Regions from separate parts of the Homo sapiens genome. Here all the other regions are linked to region 2. Evidence: fine-mapped QTL for protein levels in blood plasma. A gene starts in region 2. Each other region holds a variant in brackets. All regions are shown on one strand. Distances are from middle to middle.

Region 1 (6,996 bases), 300 kb before region 2:
TGCTAATGAGGACAGTGTCAGAGGAGAGAGCTGGCCCTAGGCACCAGACAGACACAGAGAGCCATTTACTTACTCTTGCAGATTCCAAAAGTCAAGACTCAAAAATCGCACTTCTTCTCTCAATGCCTGGAAGTGATGATTGAGACCTGTTGTACTTTTATTTGGTGCTAGGGGCTACTGTGGAACTTCAGTCTCCATACTTGCCTGTTAAAGTTCCTTCTGTTTTCCTTTTTACCCAAATTCACTTGTGTAGGGCAATGATACTACAAGAGCAGTGCTCTAACCCCTGAGCTATGGAGCCCCTGCCTGGGCAATGATATAAAAGACTGGCCTCAAAGCTGTGGCAGACTCTCGAAAATTATTGGAAAATAACTCAATAATAACAACACAGTCCTACTTCAAACCCTGTGTTCCCTAAGAGTGCTTTATTCCCTCAAAGTATTTTCAAAGTATCTGTCATTGCTTTGGGGTAGGCTTTTATCACTAGCATCTTCATAGCTGACACTTCATTTCTGGCCTTTTGGCTTTTTTGTATGTTTAGTCATACATGCAGGTCATACCACCATAGCAACTCACTCAAAATAACTCACTTAGGGTGACTGCACAGAGAGTCTCTCTCAGCTATTTTAGTAATAACACAATAGCAACCCACGTTAGTGCAGCTGGGCTCCTTAAATATTCCTTCCTAAGTCATGTAGTACACATTTTAGAAGCCACATTAAAGTACCAAAATTACCCACAAACCGTTTATTGCTACAGTTCACTCCCGTATTTTCTTCTCAACCTGTGGGTAAAGAAAGACATAGATAAATTCATCTGATGCTTTAAAGTGGCAGAGCTATAAATATCTGATTTTTCTCTGTGTTTTGAAAAATTGAATAGTCATAGAAAATTCTTATAACAGTATTTACATAAGTGAGCACTTCCTCTTTCCTTTCTTCCCCCTCGCTCTCCGTATCCTTCCTCCTTCCTCCCCTCCCCCTTTCCTTCCTTCCTTTTTTCCTTCCTTCTTTCCTCTCTTTCTTTACTAAATATCCATATTATGCTAGGTATTGTTTTAGATTCCAAGCCAGACACAAAGGTAAACAAAATATAGTCATTGCTCTCAAATGTCTCACAGCCTTCTGAATCTTTTGAAGAGGAAAACCTGAGAATTATATAAAATTGTTTCATTAACATAAGAGAATCTGAAGATGGCACAGAATGTTTTGGGGGATGCTTCCTTGATTCCTAGTTCCTTTCTCTGTAGATTCTTCCTGTTCAAGGCACAGGCGTAGACAGTCATGAGATGCCTGGGTCAGAAACATAAGACTTTAATACTCACAGCAATAGCAGTAGGCAGAGTATCAGCAGTTGTTCATATCTGTCCTGAGCCCCAATTTCCATAGGGCGTGTGAAGAAGGCCAGATGACACTTATTCACATAGTGACTTGCATTATAGGAGGAGATCCCTGAGCTCAGAGAACCCAAATCTTTCATGATGGGCAGTAAGTTTGCCTGCCCTTTTCTCCAACAGCAGGTATTAATTCTGTTTTTCAAGGCTGGTCACTATACATGGAGAATTCTTTCCCAATCCTCTTGCCTCTTACCTTTCTTTTTGTTTGTTTGTTTCTTTCTTTCTTTCTTTTTCTTTCTTTCCTTCTTTCTTTCTTTCTTCCTTCCTTTCTTTCTTTCTTTTTTTTTTTTTTTTTTTTTGAGACGGAGTCTCACTGTTGCCCAGGCTGTAGTGTAGTGGCGTGATCTTAGCTCACTGCAATCTCTGCCTCCCAGTTCAAGTGATTCCCCTGCCTCAGCCTCCCGAGTAGCTGGGACTACAGGCGCACACCACCACTCCCAGCTAATTTTTTTTGTGTTTTAGTAGAGATGGGGTTTCACCATGTAGGCCAGGATGGTCTCCATCTCCTGACCTCGTGATCCACCTGCCTCGGCCTCCCAAAGTGCTGGGATTACAGGCATGAGACACCACACCCAGCCTCACCTTTCTGTAAGTCCAAATAAAAATAAAAGCAGCTGGCAAATCTAAAGTGAGATATAAGTGGATTTCTCCTCCAGGTTCAGGATCCAGATGTTGTCTCTGCCAGGTGTCCTTTCCCACCTTGCCTTCTGTTCTCCTCTCCCCTCCTCTCCAGCTCCATATCATGCTCTGCCAAAGAATGCAAGCCTTCACGTGAGCTGAATCCATCCTGGGCAATACTATTAGGCCCATTCTAAAGCCGGGGTTGGTAAACTATGTCACAAGCTACATCTAGCAGAAATGATTTTTTAAAATTTAATGGTTGTAAGAAAAGAAGAAGAAGAAGAAGCCGGGCACAGTGGCTCACGCTTGTATTCCCAGCATTTTGGGAGGCCAAGGCGGGCAGATTATTTGTGGTCAGGAGTTCAAGACCACCCTGGCCAACAAGGTGAAACACAGTCTCCACTAAAAATACAAAACTTAGCAGGGTGTGGTGGTGTGTACCTGTAATCCCAGCTACTCAGGAGGCTGAGGCAGGAGAATCACTTGAACCCAGGAGGCAGAGGTTGCAGTGAGCCGAGATCATGCCACTGCACTCCAGCCTGGGTGACAGAGCAAGACTCTGCCAAAAAAAAAAAAAAGGCCAGGCACGGTGGCTGGCTCACACCTGTAATTCCAGCACTTTGGGTGGCCGAGGCGGGCGGATCACGAAGTCAGGAGATTGAGCCATCCTGACTAAGATGGTGAAACCCCGTCTCTACTAAAAATACAAAAAAAAAAAAAAATTAGCCAGGCATGGTGACGGGTGCCTGTAGTCCCAGCTACCCGGGAGGCTGAGGCAGGAAAATAGCGTGAACCCACGAGGTGGAGCTTGCAGTGAGCGGAGATCGCACCACTGCACTCCAACCTGGGCGACAGAGTGAGACTCTGTCTCAAAAAAAAAAAAAGGGAAGAAAACAGAGACACAGAGACAGTCCACAAAGCCTAAAATATTTACTATTTCTCTCTTTCTAAGGAAAGGTTTGCTGAGTCCCATTCTAGAAGTAACTGAGTATAGGGGGAAGTCAATTATAAAAAAAAAAATGGCAGCTACAGCATCCCCAGAATGGATGAGGTGCTGGAGCACTAGGTGAACATGTTACCTTTCTATTTTTTGAGAAGTGCTGTTTCCTTTCCTGACAGAAAGCTGGGATGACCTTCCTCA[G/C]GTCTTAGAAGATGCAGAGCTCTCATATTATAAAATGGTACACACTGTCTCTGTCTCTCTGTATCTAAACACACATATTATATATCTAATTTAATTTACAATAACCTATACCTTATATCTATATATTATTGTGAATTAAATTAGAAAAAGTGAATAAGGGAATGAGAATTACAGATCCAATTATAATATGTGATTTACATACATATGGAGCCTGGACTCGTCTTCCTCTCCCAGTCAAGTGTAGCTATGGCGTCAATTAAGATTTAGATGATGTTCTCAGGTCTGGGGAATGAATTGCTGAGTGCCAGGAAAATAATGCTCAAGTGTCTGTGCACGCACGGAGCTAGCTGGACGCCGCTCCGACAGATTTCCTTTGCGTATCGAGCATCTGAGCTCTGCAGAAGTCTCTTCTTAAAGTCATCCTGAAGCCCCTCAGTCCTCAGATTGCTGCAGTATCTTATTGTTTTTAAGCCCCTCTGTTAACTTAAAGATTAAATATTTTTGCTCACACTCTCTAAGTGTCTGAAAATGCTCAAAATATTGAAAGATGGAGAAATATACTTGAGAATCTTTTTATTTACTTTAAAATGAGTGTGGGATACTTTCTCCTTCCAGTCTCTCTGGGACTGACTCCAGCTCTAACCTGGGCTTGCAGTGTGGCCAGCAGTTCAGTAATGTCCAACTTGACCTAAGTCTGATTTTTACTAAATCAAGAACTCTACTAAAAGATGTAAAAATGTGAATGATTGTTGTTTGCCACCTTGAAGGAAAATAGCAGTGTTAAATTAGAACATTCTCTCATCTTAGAGATGTTACTAACAGGTGACATTTGGATGCTGTTTCAGAGGAATGGGATTATACTGAATATTTTTCTAATATTTCTTTCGTTGTCACAAGGTGAGAAACAACTGGCACTGTTCTAAGGGCTTAATATGCATTAATTTAATTCTCACATCTCATGAAGCAGGTGCTGTTGTGAGCCCCATTTGACAGAGGAGGAAACTGAGGCACAGATTGGTAAATGGAAGAGCCCAATTTCAAAGCCTGATGATTTCGTTTCAGAGCTTGGACCCTTTCCTGGCTGACACCAGACATTCCTAGAACCCCTAATTATGTGCTAGAAGAGTGATTCTCCATCCTAACTGTAAATAATTTGTAGTTATATGTAAAAGTGGAGTTGGGTTCCAGGCTCAGAAAATTATAAACAAGTTTGTCACCTGCATAACTGTCTGGTGGGACATTGAAAAGTTCCACAAGATCGTCTTCTGCATTGTGGGCCCTCTAGTATTCCAGGCCTCCACCCACTAAATGAGGTCACACCCCATCTTCATGACTATCAATAAAGTAAAACAGGGCCAGGCGCGGTGGCTCACGCCTGTAATCCCAGCACTTTGGGAGGCCCAAGTGGGTGGATCACGAGGTCAGGAGTTCGAGACCAGCCTGGCCAACATGGTGAAGCCCTGTCTCTACTAAAAATACAAAAAGTAGCCAGGCGTGGTGGTGGAAGCCTGTAATGCCAGCTACTCGGGAGACTGAGGCAGGAGAATCACTTGAAACCGTAAGGCGGAGGTTGCAGTGAGTCGAGATCGTGCCACTGCACTCCAGCCTGGGCGAAAGAGCAAAACTCCCTCTCAAATAAATACATAAATAAAGTAAAATAAAGCCCCTACACATTTCCAAAATGCTCTCTAGGGGGCAGTAATCCCTCCATTAAGAACTATTGGTTAGCTTTTTGATGGTGACATTAAAGCGTCATTTCTCTAGGTTAAATCAACCTGGATAAGAGTTCTAGCCACAGGCACATGTCTGTGTTTCTACATGAGCATGAAGAAGCGAGTGCACTGTGGAGAGGATATGAATAATATCTCCCTCCCTTCCCAACTAAGGGAAGCCGGCCCACGCCTGCACTCACATGAGACTGTTCCCCACGATGGCACAGTAAGAGGAGACTTGAGAGAGCGCCCTGCTGTTTTGGTCGTGTGTGATGTTAGTGACTGCGTCATAAGAACCAAAGCTGATGCTTGATTGGAGTGTGCTAGAATCCAATCACTTAGAAGTGGGTCCGCCAGCAAATATGCAAGATTGATTTTTGGAAGCGATGCTGGAAACTGTGGCTGGCGAAGGTAGACGGAGCTTTGCTTTCCAATATCTGCAAGGGGCCGACTTCTCCGTAGCCTGTGTATGTCGGGGCACTCTCAGGCTTTCATATCGAGCCAGATGTTCCCACTTCCTTTTGATTCTCTTGCTGATGGAGAAAATTGCCGCTCTGGGGGATGAAATACTTCCCAATGACTTGGAAATTGTGATGGTAACTTGTAGTTGATGAATCATGAGTTGTTACCACAGGCCCCACAAAGACCCGCAATGCACACCAAAGACGGGCACCAAAACCACCCCAGTGGTATGGAGAGAAGCACGTGGTTCTCTCATTTTGAACACTCTGTGTTTTAAAGATATCAGTAATGTCTCCCTCCCTTCCCAAATTATTTTCTCCCAGGGAAGCTCCACGTTATGACATCTTCACAGATGCAGTCAACTGTTTTCTTTAAATGTCATTGGCCACCGAGGAGAGGTAGGCCCTAAGTCTTGTGGCCCCAACCCACCCTGCTGAGAGGTTGGTATGTGGCTCCTGTTTTGGGAAAGAGGAGGTAGGCGGTTACGTGACTCCCCCACTTCCTCCAGCTCTCTTGGCAAGGCTATTGGCAGATTGGAGCTTGCCCCGCTCTGGACTCAGAAGTTCTCATTTGCTACATTAGGCTGCTTCATCTGGCTCCAATGGGAGGATTCTTGGAAAGTTCTAAACTGGGTTACAGCCGCATTTTAGGCTGCCATTAATTGATTGTTCAGAGCTAAAATTAGAAAAAATACATTATAACGACTTTTACCATGTCAGAACCACCAATATTTAAAAATATTTCACGAATGTAATTGCTGGTGTGAAATATACTTGTTTAACCATCCCACCACTAAAGGAAAATCTTGGACTGAAATTCTTCATTTCAGGAAACAAATTATAAATTTCAACAGATAGTGGTTTGCCTCACTGAAGAGACACAGGCTTCAGGACCCAATAGGCTGGTTTTAGGATCTTGGTCCCTCTATTTACCAGCGGAGGGCCCCAATAACTTACTACCTCTCTGAGTCTCAGGTTTCACATCTGCAAAGTGTGGTTAAAAATATCTGCTTTGCAAAATAGTGTTTTGCACAAGGCTAACTGATAGAGAGAGAGAGAGAGAGTTAAAGACCAAACTGATAATTTTGTCAACAGCATGGAATAGCAATTGGGAAATTAATTTATTATGTCCTCTGTGTGGTTAACCAAACTAAATGTTTATTTAGCTAGGGTATTGTGTCTTGATAACAGCACCCCCACAAGAGAAAATTTAATATGTTGTAAATTAGGTTTTGGTATCAAAAATTTTGATAAGGTATTAAAATGTGGTACCTAATTTTGAATTTCAAAGACTGTGTGGATATTCATATAGCCACAAAAGTTTGTATACAATTTTAGAGGGTCCACAGACCACTGAATTCCATGCAAGGATCCCTTGAGGATCTATGGACCTTGTATTTGAAATCCCAGAATACTGCTTACTGAGAGATAGCTTTTATACTTGGGGTTCTAGATTTTGATAATCATTGTCAGGATTTGATTTTATTTTAAGCTAACATACACAACAGGTTGCTTGTTAAAAGAGAGCAAAGATCATGGAAAAAAATAAATCTGCTCCAAAATTATGTATTGTCTGTTTGTTCTCTGCAAATGCTTGGTGAGAGAGGGAAATATTTCACAGAGGTGTTCACTGTATTGGGCATTCCTAACAAGCTGTGGTTTCGA
Region 2 (6,657 bases):
TTCTGAAATGTGCCTGTCCTCCTTTGTCCACCTCTAGTCTGGTCATCATTTGACTGTAGATCCCACGTCAACACAGTAGAGAGAAGGGCTGGGAAGCTGTCCAGCCCCAGCATTCCTCAGCACAGTGATTCACAGAGCAGAAGGCGAAAAAGCAAGAGTGCAGATCGCGGTGGGATTCCAGGAGCTCTCACAAACAACCCCGCTCGGACCCACTCACATGCAACCCACGGGCAGGTGGCAGAGGAATCGGAAAAGCAGAAGGCTGGAATCGCCACAAAGCCAGGGCAGCACTGGTTCCAGTTTCAGATCATTTTCAGAAACAAAAACTCTTCCAGCACTCTGAAAATTTTCACTTAGAAAAACAAAAGCCAGGAGTTGTAGGTGGGGAAGTTGGAAGACTTTATTTAGTTTTATTCCTCTCAAGTACTGTGCAAAGTATTCAGTGAATACTTTCCTAGAGTTCACTAATGGGAAGAAAAAGACCCTACGGCAGGCACTGCCTTTTATGAGAAAGTGGCATTGGCATCAGAATACCTCGCATAAACCTGAGCCAAGCATTGGGATGATGTATCTACCAAAAAGTCACAAAGTAATGTGATCCCCAACTTTTCTTCCTTTACCCCTGAAGTAAGAGAACAATATATACACTAAATAGCATCATAAAACTGGTACCCTCGTTGGAATAGTATCTGACGATCATTGTCTGCTTCTTGGATTTCTACAAACCAATAACCTAAAAGCCAGTTTCAAGTGTAAAAATGCCTGCAAAGGAGGTGGTAACAAGGGCCGCCAAAGGCTTAGGAATGAAAACCTCGCCACAAACTTGTCTCTCTCTGCAGGAAGCTTGCAAGAAATCTGACAGGAGCGCGCTAGCATTTTCTGAAAAGCATTGCTCTCAAAGGAAGCATCCATCCTGGCTGCAGCCTCAGCCATTGGGGAAGGGCGAGTTTCTCTGGAATCAGCTTTCTCATTTCCCTCTCCCTCCTCTCAAGACAAACATTTTCTCCCAGCTTGAACGTTCCCCCCGGGCGCGCGGGCCTCCTGCCGCCTGGAGCCGAGCTGGCACTGGAGCGCTTCTCCTCTGGAGCGCAGAGGCACCCGACGCCCTGCGGCAGCTCGCAGCCTTTCCCCCACGACCTTCTAGAACAGCCCTGCTCTGCCTCCCTCCGGTCTCCCGAGTGCGCCCGTCATCCTGCCTCGCGAGAGGTGAACGCGGAGAAAGTAGGATGACCACCTACGCTCCCGAGAAATTCTGGGCAAAGAAAGGCATTACCCCAGTCCGCACGCTGAAAGTCGCCTTTCTTTTCCTTTTTTCCCCGCTGTGCCTGAATCTCCCGGGACACTTAGACGGCTGGAGCCTCCCGACTCCAAGGCGGGCGACGGCAAAGTTAAACGCCAGCGCGCTGCGGTCCCCGGGCACCGAGGCGTCCCCGCTCCCGCCACCCACACAGGGCGCCAAGTGCCCCGACCCGCGAGTGACGAGGACGCACAGGCTAGTGACACGACCCGTAGCCAGCACTGAGCGGGACGACGGGGCCCGAGCGCAGGAGGGTGCGCGGGGAGCTGAGGAGCGCCGGGGGCCCGGGCGCGGCGCGTACCTGAGGCCGCCGCCGAGGAGGCGACGGGGAGCAGCGCGGCCAAGAGCAGCAGCGCCGCCCAGGACAGCCGGCGCGGCGCGCGCAGGGTCGCCCCGGCCTCGGGGGCCATCGAGAGCCCGGGGTGGGCCGGGGCTGGGTGCTTGCGGCTGGCAGGGGGGCGCTGGCCGGAGTCTGGGGAGTGCCGAGGCGCCGCCGTCGGGTCCCCGCCGCCGTCCGTCTGTTCTGCGCGCTCTGCGCGGTGCCCGCCGCGCCCCTGCCCCGCGGCGATCGCTCCCGGCCGCACACCGGCAGCCGCGCTCCGCCACTGAGGCCGCCGACCTCCCGCCGAGCCTTTTAGCTGCGCTCGGGCGCCCCCTGCCGGTGTGCGGGGCCGGGGCCAGGGCCGGCGGGGGCGACCCGGGCGACAGGGGCGACGGGGGCGGCGGGGCCCGGGCTGGAGGCGGGCGGGGCGCGGGACGAAGGGGCCGGAGCGCCCCGGACTGACTTAGCGGTTCTGAACTTGGGGCGGTCGCTGTGCCGGGCCAAGTGGCTGAGGAAGTTCCTCCCCTCGTCTAACCCTCTCATTTTCTGGCTGGGGAAGTCGCCCATCGCGCCGAGGAGTGCCCTTTGTCCCCTTACAGAAACACCTCTGCGCCCCAAGTGGGGACTCGGGCCGGGACCCCTCACCCGGTCCGCAGCGCTGTAGTTCCTGTGGCTAGCCCAGTCCTTCCACGTCCCTACCCGCACCCGGCGCGCCCACGTCAGGGGTTTTCAGCGTCCTTAGACCCTGCTCCGTCTGGCTGTCATTTCTAGGGCGCGCACGATGCGGGTCGAAAAGGAACCCAGTTTTCAGTGTGCCTTGTTGCCCAGGCCAAGGACTCAGCGGACCTCGCCTCTCCCTTTTCTGTAATTGTAACACTGCCCCAGGTCTCCCTATTCCTCCTTCTCCCTATTCCTCCTTCCAGCCTGGAAGCCTCGCGGCCCTCCAGATGGACTCGGAGCGCCCCTGGAGGCTACAGTGACCTAAGCTCTAGGAAGGCCGGGTCCTGGACGCCGCGTGCTGCTGTCCGCCGCCGACCGGTGTCCTCGCAGAGATAACCTGGCTGAACTCACCGCCCAGCGCTATGTCAGTTCTCCCTCATGACAACCCAAAACTTGACCGGATTTGTGTTCTGCAGAGAGGAAAAAAAAAAGGTAAATGAATTGCAAAGAGATGAAAACCAGAAATACAGTATCTCTTTGAATTTGAGCACCCAGGAAAGGTGTAAACCTACCGCCTTCCTTTCCAGGAAACTCTCCTGCTTCCCAGCAAAGGTTTTTGTTTGTTTGTTTTTCTTTTTCTTTTTGTTTTGAGACAGGGTCTCCCTCTGCCTCTGCCGCCCAGGCTGGAGTGCAGTGGTGCAGTCTTGGCTCACTGCAACCACCATATCCCAGGCTCAAGCCATTCTCCTGCCTCAGCCTCCTAAGTGGCTGGGACTACAGGTTTCAGCCACCATGCCCAGCTCATTTTTGTATGTTTTGTAGAGACAGGGTTTCCCCACGTTGCCCAGGCTGGTCTCCAACTCCTGAGCTCAAGCAATCCGCCCACCTTGGCCTCCCAAAGTGCTGGGATTACAGGCGTGAGCCACCACGCCCAGCCCAAACACACTTTCCTGCATTACTCCCTTATGTTATCATGTTTCCCCACATGCCATTTAATGGAGCTGTGTGGTTTCTGTCTCACCAGCAGCCACCCGGCTCTGCCTATTTTGGGGGAATGGTAGCTCCCTCCCCAACTCCAACCAAGTGACAGGCCCCCTCCTTACTCCCACTCCTTCCCAAAGCCCCACTTCCCCACTGGCTCAGGGCTCTGCAGTGGCCTAGACAGGGTCACTCAGAGTTGGGACTCTTCTAACACGGGCTGGTGGAAAGGTCTCTTTCTCCCATCATTCGTGGATTTGGAAGGATGGTAGCCATGGCAGGCTGAAACACAGCCTTCCTCCCCAAAAAGACATTCCTGTCCTAGTCCCTGACCCTGTGAATGTCACCTTACATGGTTTATTAAAAAGCAATTAAGCATGCTGAGACAGAGAGATTATCGTGGATTATCTGGGTGGGCCCTAATGCAGTCATGTATGTAACTTATAAAACAGAGGAGAGGGAGATTGACGCACACAAGAGAAATCCAGGTGAGGACGGAGGCAGCCATGGGAACGATGCACCCACAGCCCAGGGATGCTGGCAGCCCTCACCAGAGGCTGGAAGAGGCTCCTCCAGAGCCTGTGCTGGACTTCAGGCCAGTGGAACTGATTTCAGACTTCTGGCCTCCAAGACTGAGAGAGCAGATTTCTGTTGTTTAAGCCACCCACCCCGTTTGTAATTACTTCTTACAGCGGCCACCGAACACCAGTGCAGTAGCCAGGATGGGCCTGTGGCTCTGGCTGCAGCCTCCAGGGACACCAGCTGGAGAGAAGGAAGCCACGCATGGAGAGCGGCCAGGTGGGTAGAAAAGAGCCGGGCAGATGCAAGAGTCCCGGGCTCCACCTCACCCCTGCGCTTTCTGAACGCTGGTTCTGGGGACAGCACATTCCCTTTTGCTAACTTGGAATGAGATTTCTATTTTCTATAACCAATGAGTCTTGACTAGTGCACTCCCCCCTGTTCTTAAGAGGACAAGAACCAAGACTTATCTTTATTGCTCATCTGTCACCCAAAAGAGGCCATCACAGAACCAAACACAGTAATATCCAGGAAATGCTGAGGTTAATTGCCATTCATTCATTCATTCAGCAAATACTTATTGTGATCTACTCTGTCCCCAGCACTGCTGTAGACCCCGGGGATTAGCAGTGACTGAAAGCAGATGAATAGCAGGAGTTAAGTTAAAAGCAGAGAAGGGGAGGCAGCACTGAGGACTTTACAGGCTGCAGGAAGGGTTTAGGCTTTCAATCTGAGAGGTGAAGGGCAACACTGGAGAATTCTGATCAGAGGAGACACGGGTAAGCAGGCTCTTACAATCCCAGTGAGGCAAGACGGTGCTTGGACATGATGGACAGCAGTGGGGCACGAGAACCAGTGAGGTTCTGGATGCATCTTAAAGGTATGGTTTGGGAGATTTTCTGACTCATTGGATGTGGAGAAAAAGAGGATTTGCAATATACCGAGTCACACTATTCTCATGCTGCTGGTTAACTCTCCATTGTGACTTCTGTAATTTCAGGATGTCACTCTTTAGTTTCATTGTAATGAACTAATCATATGCCATAATCTCTATATGCACACAGTGAAAGCTCAACAGACATCAGTTTCCTTCCCTGCATCCTCAGGAGATGCATGTGCACTTACCTTCCTCCCCAGAATACTTATTAGAGCAACTTTCTTAGGGGTACATTTCAGAGTGAAGCACAATGCAAAATTACTTCCAATTTTAGAGTTTCAGAACCCTCAACCATGGGCTGTTTGATATTAAATGAAATTACTGACACTTATGAGTTCTGATTCTGATTTCATTACAAATATGAGAGTGTGTGTTTTAATCAAAAGGTATTATTACCTTTAGGCTCAAAATATCTTAAAGAAAATGGAACTCGGAGTCAGTCATCTGTTCTCAACGTGGTCATCTCAAAAATATGAGCACACGGAAGTTTTCTTCCTTCTTGTCAGTTTTGAGTCCAATATCAATACTGTTGTCCTGTGAAAGATTTTAAGATTTAAATGTTTTTTCATGTAATTTCCTGATGTCTTGATTGTTGCTTCTATTTTGTTCATCAAAACCAAACAGAGTGGAGGTTGCTCTGGGGCTGGATGGATGGCCAGTCATTAAAATCAATGCCTTATTAGTCTGCCTTAGTTCTGTGGTCTTTTCTGGCTTTACAGATCAGCTTGTGTTCATATACACTATTTCCTGTTCTAGTTATTTTTAAAATAACTATACATCCAAGGAGTTCAGCACTCCTCATACACATTGTCGTGGCATTCCTATGTGATAGGGTAAATTAAATTGCTATTCTCGTGTTTCATATGGATAAATGGGAAGCAAGTTCAAATGACCTTCCAGTACAGACTCAAGTAGAGCGTTGAAAGTGCGTGTCTCATATTATTCATCTGACATTTAATCTTGTTCAGTCTTCAATTTGGCTCATGTGGCTCTTTAATTCCTTTTTAAGCACCACATTTGAATATATCTGCATATTGTGATCGCCGCAGGACACTACACAATACCCATTACACAATAGTGATATTTTTAAAAGACTACATAGAAGGAGAACAAAAGAGAGTGTGCTCCTACAGCACTTGCTGTGATTGTGGGGAGCTCAATAAATCGGACACAGCAGATCTGGAGGAACACAACAGTCCCCAGGATTCTATGAACAGAGGGAAAAGGGAAAAGAAAATAGAAGCAGGCAAGTCGACACTGCCATCTCAGTTTCGCCTTGACCTGGGAGAAGGGTGATAGAAATAGCTTCTAGCTGGCAATAAAATAAAATAATAAAATAATGCTTTACTTCTTTTCTTGAACAGTACTCATTTCGTTCCGATTCTCACAACAACTTTAGGGGCACTATTCTGATTTTACAGGAGAAAATCAAGGCTCCAAGAAGGCGTGTGGCATGTGCTTGGCCCTTTAACTGGTGCGCCTGGGAGTCCAGTCTGAGCCTCTGACCCCAAGTACACATCTCTCTCCACCACACGTGACTCTCAGAAGGTCCTTCCCTCTCTCCCATTTTCATTAAAACTATGAGGATCAGGGGAGACAGGACAAATAAAAGTCTGTTTTGCACACGCCATGTCCCCGTGTCCACTGCAGATTTATCGGAGACACTTCCTTATCATCCAGATAGTGACCAATCCCTCTTAGCAAACAACTACATGAGACCTCAATGTTATATCACTCATGTTCTTAGAGTTTCAAAGATGCAGACAAGAAATGGTGCTTCTTAAAAAACACCCTGCCATGAATCTATCATTGCCCAAAACACACTTCCTCTGCACAGAAGTTCTAACATGTTTCCACTGCAAGGCAGTGCCAAGGCAATTCTCTTCTATTGTACAAATCTACTGGGAATTAGTGAAACATAAAGGATTAAGGTGTCAGACACCA
Region 3 (6,996 bases), 340 kb before region 2:
CTTGCTGATAAAACAGTTGTCGTAAAGAAGCCAGCTAACACCTACCGAAACCAAGACAGTGATGAAAGTGACCTCTGGTCGTCCTCACTGCTACACTCCCATCAGCACCATGACAGTTTGCAAATGCCATGGCAACATCAGGAAGTTACCCTATATGATCTAAAAAGGGGAGGCATGAATAATCCACCCTTGTTTAGCATATCATGAAGAAATAACCATAAAATGGGCAACCAGCAGCCCCTGGGACTGCTCGGCCTATGGCATAGCCATTCTTTTATTCCTTTACTTTCCTAATAAACTTGCTTTCACTTTGCTCTATGGACTTGCCCAGAATTCCTTCTTGTGCGAGATCCAGGAACCCTCTCTTGGGGTCTGGATCCGGACCACTTTCCCGTAACACCTCCAGCTCCCCAGCAGCCCTGCTCCCTTGCCTTAGAGGTAGGGTTCTTTCCACTGTGTTGTTTGAAACAGGAGCTTTCTGGAGGTGTCTTCTCCTGGGTGAAAGAATGCAGATTGTTCCTTTCTTGGTTCCTTGATGTTTCCTGAGAACACTCCCATGTCCTCAGCAGAAATCCCCCCAAAATTCAAAGAATGATTAAACCTACACCATGGAATCAGAAATCTCTTATAAATGCCAATGTGATATTTAATTAAATCTGACAGGTGGGGTCCATGAACTCATCCTCCTTTCCATCTGAAACTCCTCTTAAAAGACAGGAAACATCTATGAACTTTCAAATACAAAGAATGCCAGAGTGGAGATAGCAGTATTCAGACACATCTTCAGAAAAAGCAGCTAGCAGAGAGGTAACTGGTTTAACAGAGGAAAGGAACTTACAAAATAGTGCCCACAGAGGAGGAGCTGGGAGGAGCCAGTCAGACCCATGTCTGAGACCCCTGTCAATGACACTTAGAATATGTGAGATAACACGGGAACCATCAGCGCAGATCACTTTTGTGTTCTCAGGTAATTGTCTGGATTTAATTAATTAATTAATTAATTAATTTTTAGGGAACAAATTATCCAGCTGCCCTAGAACCTACCTTGTCTAGTTAAGAGAGTAATACCCTGCTTGCTGCACTGCTTGCATTTAGAGTTTCACGTTTCTCCCCTGCACGCTATTTAGTCTCCCCAACATGGCTTCCTGTGCAGTTTTTATCATCTGATCCTCCGGACATCATGGTGAGGTCGACAGGGAGGTGAGGAAATGGGCTCAGGAAGGTCAACCTTTCTGGCCAACCTGGCCCACAAGCCCCCTTTTTCAAATCTTTGAAGCACAAGCAATGTGGGCTTTTCTGTCCCGAGTTTCTTGCCTCTTCTGAGATGTCAGTGTAGGGGTGGGGATTTGCATTCACAGCAGGCTGAGCACTTACCACGGGGGACCCCCCCACCCCCCAGTAGGTCAGGAGTCCTAAGTGGAGGACCCAGCCAGGGAGACAGATTCATCTTCAAAGAGCCGCCCTCTGATAGAGGGGCCTCGGGGGCCACCCGGACGAGCCTTCCTCTGCAGGGTGAGCTGCCATGTTGTGGAAAGGGACTTTGGCTGCCTGAGGTTGAGTGGGCAGCCTCAGTTAGTAGCAGAACCCCGATGAGTTCTGAACCCCTGGGAAAAATCTCTTTCTAAACTCCCTTATTTCTTCATCCCAACGCCTACCTGAGGGTGGCCCTAAGGATAAAATGTCCCTTCTTGGCTGAGTGTCCTCAAAACTTTTGGACAGTGATGGCTCCCTTAATCCAACCTACCTGTCAGGCCAAGTTCTAACAACTCCTAATCACTCATCCTTCCAAAAGGGCACAGTACAAAGAATGTCATAATAAAATGACCTACGCTTATTTCTCCATACTTTGGACTTTGTAGAGATAAGTCTCCACTCATGGAGGCACTGAAAGGGAAGGGGCCTTCTTTGTTCCACTTGATTAGTGCTGAGAATTCCAGGACCAAGTGCTCATTGGAAATGATGATGTCCTTGTATTGTGGCTTCTGGCCCTATGATATGAGGATTGGCCCTTGCTCGCTCCAACTCAAAAGCAAGGGCACTTAGCTTCTCAGTCTGTTTGGGAAGAAGTTCTGGTATTAAGTCAACTGACGGAAGAAGACGGAGCTTGGATTGGTTGCTGCAAGGAGTGTCCAAAATAATGAATACAGGCAAGTGGATTTCTGCATCAAATGAGCAGCTTCTTAAACCAAGGAGCTCTGTCCTCTGCTCCCAGATCCCCAAGCATGTGTGGTATGATGTTGCAGGCCACCTAAGGGGCAGAAGTTCTTTTTTTCAGAGGCATGTAGGAGGGGTACAAGAGAATACCCCACTCCCCGACTAGCCTGGCAGTCAGATGGGAATGCACTGATGTGCATCTCTTTAAGAACATTTGAAAGGCAAACATTTTCCAAACGTATCCTTTTCCATCTTCTTGTTTGTTTAGGAAAGCAGTTGTGATAGTTAAATTGTATGTATCAACTTGGCTAGACTGTGGTGCCCAGTTGTTTGGTCAAACCCTAGTCCTTAGTCTAGGTGTTGCAGTAAAAGCATTTTTGTAGATGTGATTAACATGTATAATAAGTTGACTTTAAGCAAAGGAGATGACCCTCCACCATGTGGGTGGGCCTCATTTGATCAGTTGAAGGGCGTAAGAGCAAAAACTGAGATTTCCAGGGAAGGAGGAATTTTGGCTCAAGACTGAAACATAGGAATTCTGCCTGTGTTTCCAGCCTGCCAGACTGCCCCAGAAACTTCAGACTCAAGTTTGTGACATCAGCTCTTACCTGAGTTTCCAGCTGCTGGCCGGCCCTAAGGTTTCAGACTTGCCAGCTGCAGCAATCATGGGAGCCAATTTCCTAAAATAAATCTCTTAACATAAATATCTTATTGGTTCTGTTTCTCTGGAGAACCCAGACTGACACAGGGGCTGCGGCAGACACATACCTTCAGCAATATCTAAAGGGAGGGCTGCTCCGGGGACAGTGGACCAAAGGAAACACCCTTGTTGGCTGTAAAGTCTGAATGGGGCTGTTCTGCTTCACCAGGTTCTATGACAGAAAATGAACTCAAATCCCAGGCTTCAGGCAAAGGGTGGTAACTACAGCAGCAAACATGTCTGGCAGTGCGCAAATACGTTAAGTATATTGTCTCATGTCATTAAAAAAAAGACTTTATTTTTTAAAGCAGTTTTAGATTTACAGGAAAATTGATCGGAAAGTACACAGCTCCCATATACCAAACCCCCTGCCTCCATTTTTCCTTGAGATTAACACCCTGCATGAGTGTGCTACATTTATTGCAAACAATGAACCAAGCTTGAAAATTACTTTTAACAAAAGTCCAAGTTTATGTGAGTGTTTATTCCCTGTGTTGTATGGTTCTAGGGGTTTTGACAATGGCATTAATACAGTATCACGCAGAATACTTTTCCTGGCCTAAAACTCCCTGCTGCTCCACCTGTTCATTTCTCTCCCCTATTTATTTAATTTTCAAAACAATATTATGAGGTGAAATTTAAAAAATTCTTTAATTTATAAAATTGATACAATAATTGTATTTATGGAGTACATAGTAATGTTTTGAAACATGTATAGTGATGAAATAGAATAATTAGCATATCCATCATCTCAAACATTTATCATTTCTTTGTGTTGGGAATAGTCAAAGTCCTCTTTTCTAGCTATTTGAAGATATATAACAGGCTGGGCACGGTGGCTCATGCCTGTAATCCCAGCAGTTTGAGAGGCTGAGGTGGGTGGATCACTTGAGGCCAGGAGTTTAAGATCAACCTGGCCAACATGGCGAAACCCCATCTCTACTAAAAACACACAAAAAAATTAGCCAAGTGTGGTGGTGCACACCTGTAATCCCAGCTACTCGAGAGGCTGAGGTGGGAGAATCACTTGAACCTGGGAAGCAGAGATTGCATTGAGCCGAGATCGCGCCACTGCACTCCAGGCTGGGCAACAGAGCAAGACTCTGTCTCAAATATATGTATATGTGTATATATATATA[C/TAC]ACACACATATATACATATATACACACATATATACATATATGTATACATACACATATACGTATACATGTATACATACACATATACGTATACATGTATACATATATACGTATATGTGTATATGTATATATACACACATATATACATATATACACATATATACATATATACACATATATACATATATACGCATATATACATATATACGCATATATACACATATATGTTTTATATATATATATATAAAACAAATTATTGTTAACTATAGTCAGCCTACAGTGCTATGGAATATTAGAACTTATTCTTCCTAGCTAGCTGCAATTTTATATCATTTAACCAATCTCTCCCTAGTCCTGCCTCCCTGCTACCTTTCCCAGCCTCTAGTGTCCATTTACAGGTGAATAGATAAAGAAAATGCAGTGTGCATACATAGTGGAATACTACTCAGCCACAAAAAGTATGAGATCCTGTCATTCACAGCAAAATGGATGAACCTGGAGACATTACTTTAAGTGAAATGAGTCAGGCATAGGAAGATAAATACCACATCTTCTCACTTATATGTGGAGGCTAAAAAAGTTGATCTCATAGAAGCAGAGAGTAGAACACTTACCAGAGGTGGAACTTTATAGGCGTTGTTACAACCAAGACTCAGATTGCTCCGCTTCCCAGGTTCACACTATTCTCCTGCTTCAGCCTCCCAAGTAGCTGGGATTACAGGTGCCCACCACAATGCCCGGCTAATTTTTTCTATTTTTTAGTAGAGACAGGGTTTCACCGTGTTAGCCAGGATGGTCTCGATCTCCTGACCTCGTGATCCGCCCGCCTCAGCCTCCCAAAGTGCTGGGATTACAGGCTTGAGCCACTGCTCCCGGCCCTGGATTCACCTTTTAATAATGACAAGAAGGGGCAGGAAGATGGTTCCAAGGAAAGGCAGCACCCAGCAGTCCCTTCTTCCACTTTAAGCTCCACAGACTTCTAACTGCTGAGGTGGAAAGGAGGCATGGCTATGATTGGCAGTGCCCACAGTGCCCAGTCCTGGATGGTGGAGGCAGGGGGTGAAAGCAGGGAGCAAGAGGCAGGGCTGGGCCAGGTGGAGTGGGTGATCCTCCACTCTGAGGCCTGCAGGCCAGGGCGAACATGCCACACTGCAGCCTTTCCCGGCTCCTGGCACATTGTCCCCATTCTCCAAGGCTCCCTGTTGCCCTCACTGAAAATGAGACCTCACTTACCTGTGGATGGCTGGTTAGGAACCTGACATCCTGGAGAGCTGTTGCCTTCCTCTGGGGAGCAGAAGGCTGACTCCTCAGAGGCCTCTAGGTCCCTATTCCAACCTGAAAGAAGCCTCAGGGAGGTACACAGTCCCCTGCAGTAAACCTGACCTCAAGGGTTACACCTTCTTGGCCATCAGTTCCAGACCACACCCAGCCTGGGTCACTCTCTACCCCTTCACCAGGGCTGACCCCCAGCCCTGTCTTCCTCATTGCCCTAGAGCCTTCTGAGGAGGCCTCATATATGTGAGGTTGTGTGAACAGGAACCACCAGAGTGGCTGGGAGTTCAGTGAGGGCAGGGGTGTGTCTTCCCTGTCCCCATAATTTATACCGCAGAGTGCAGAGGCCCCTGATGACAAGATGCAGGAACTTTTAAAAGCCATCTGAGGAACTTCTAAAAAGATCCGTGCCTTCTGCTTCACCTCCCCTCCAATTGGAGGTGAGGATTCCCGAGGTGAGGGCAGGATGGCTGGGCGTCAGTATTATGAAAATGTCCCCCAGGCCCAGGGCTGGGCCCACTGCTGTGGGGGGCAGCTCAGCAGAGCTGTGCGGCTGTCCATGACATGGGAGACCCTCCCTAGGGGTGGCACAGGGAGGTTGTCTTGGGGAGAGGACAGGCACCCTGATATTTGAACTGGGACCTTCCCTTCTCCTTTCTTTCCCTGCCTCATGCGGTGGAGGGCAGGGACCCAGCCTGGAGGGTTTGGGGATGAGGTCATGGTCAAGGAGAGCTCTGGGCGCTGGGCTCGGGCTGCCTGGCCAGACTCAGGTGGGTGGGGCAGGAGCTGGAGTTGGCCTAGTTGTTCCAGGAGAGTCTGTTTTTCTAAAGGAAAAAGAATCATGCTAACGAGCCTGGCGCCCTCCTGAACGTCTCTAACAGGCCCCGTTCTGACTGGGAACTCTGGCTGTGCGCCCTCTGCTTCAGCCTAGGGCCAAGGAGGTCCCCTAAGAGAGGACTCTAGGCAGCTCAGCCTGCCTCATCAACCCAGGCAGGGCTCAGGGGTTGCCTTGGCGGCACTTCCCGAAGCAGACCCCATCCCGCCGTCATCCTGCACCTTCACTCATCCCGGGTCTCCTGCCACCTGCGTCATGGCACAGGGAGGCGGTTGCCCTTTGTTACAGGATGAAAGCTTCGAAGTCTCCACTCATTTGCTCACCTCGCTTCTCATTTGCAGAGCTCTGAGCTTGGCTGGGGTAGAGCACACCCAGGCTCTGACACAGTGGGAAACAAGCTTGGTGTTCAGTTTTGGCTGTGACACTGTCTTCCAGAGAATAATCCGGGCTACGAATTCTCTGGCAGGAACATGAAGTCCATCTGGCTGAGGGGTCTTTGCCCTGACACTCTCAGATGTGGTGCCCTGGTGTTCTGTTCCCATTGCTCAAAGCTGGACCCTGCAGCTTCCAGCCAAGGGCACCAGCATAAACCATTGTGTGTGGGTTCCACGTGGGGGCTTTCAGCCGGGGCTGTTTTGCTCAGGAGGCGATGTCTGCCTAGGTCTGGAGTCCAACAAGGCAAGCTCACTGAGGGCCCAGGGAAATTCCTGGGCAAAAACTCCTCTTAGGGAAAGAGAGATGAGGGGAAACAGCCTGGGTTGGTGACAACAGGCCCTGTGGGGGCCTGGGCTGTACTGACCACAGCTTGGTGTGTATCACCCAGTGTCCATGCAGACCTGCCCTCAGCCTACACCCCGTCCATTCCGCGGTGGGCACCAGGAACCTTGGCAGGGCATCAG

Which allele goes with the higher level. Positions count from the first base shown, and alleles are read on the strand shown. Strength reflects both the effect of a copy and how common the allele is.
As copies of C replace G in region 1, the plasma level of the protein whose gene starts at base 1,904 in region 2 goes down (moderate association).
As copies of C replace TAC in region 3, the plasma level of the protein whose gene starts at base 1,904 in region 2 goes up (weak association).

The links. PIP is the posterior inclusion probability: the model's chance that the variant is causal. The UK Biobank Pharma Proteomics Project read protein levels with antibody pairs (Olink). The fine-mapping took linkage between variants from a reference panel, not from the people measured, so its PIPs are less certain.
Region 1: its variant is fine-mapped to the plasma level of the FNDC1 protein (UK Biobank, PIP 0.94).
Region 3: its variant is fine-mapped to the plasma level of the FNDC1 protein (UK Biobank, PIP above 0.99).

What each region holds. Positions count from the first base shown.
Region 1 is chr6:159,461,494-159,468,489 of GRCh38, reverse strand. It overlaps LOC101929142 (a long non-coding RNA gene), which reads right to left and starts at 5,133. Exons shown (of 3, transcript XR_943178.4): 1 at 5,071-5,133; 2 at 1,979-2,143; 3 at 743-784. RefSeq lists an enhancer at 5,473-5,978. The variant G/C (reference allele first, on the strand shown) is at 3,159.
Region 2 is chr6:159,164,647-159,171,303 of GRCh38, reverse strand. It overlaps FNDC1 (fibronectin type III domain containing 1), which reads right to left and starts at 1,904. Exons shown (of 23, transcript NM_032532.3): 1 at 1,599-1,904. The coding sequence starts at 1,707. FNDC1-AS1 (FNDC1 antisense RNA 1) reads left to right here and starts at 1,297. Exons shown (of 4, transcript NR_121668.1): 1 at 1,297-1,492; 2 at 2,543-2,771; 3 at 3,950-4,055; 4 at 5,116-5,405. RefSeq lists an enhancer at 550-1,049 and a silencer at 1,856-2,025.
Region 3 is chr6:159,504,815-159,511,810 of GRCh38, reverse strand. No RefSeq gene overlaps it. Among named protein-coding and RNA genes, the nearest start is that of LINC02529, 120 kb to the right of the region's middle. The variant C/TAC (reference allele first, on the strand shown) is at 3,994.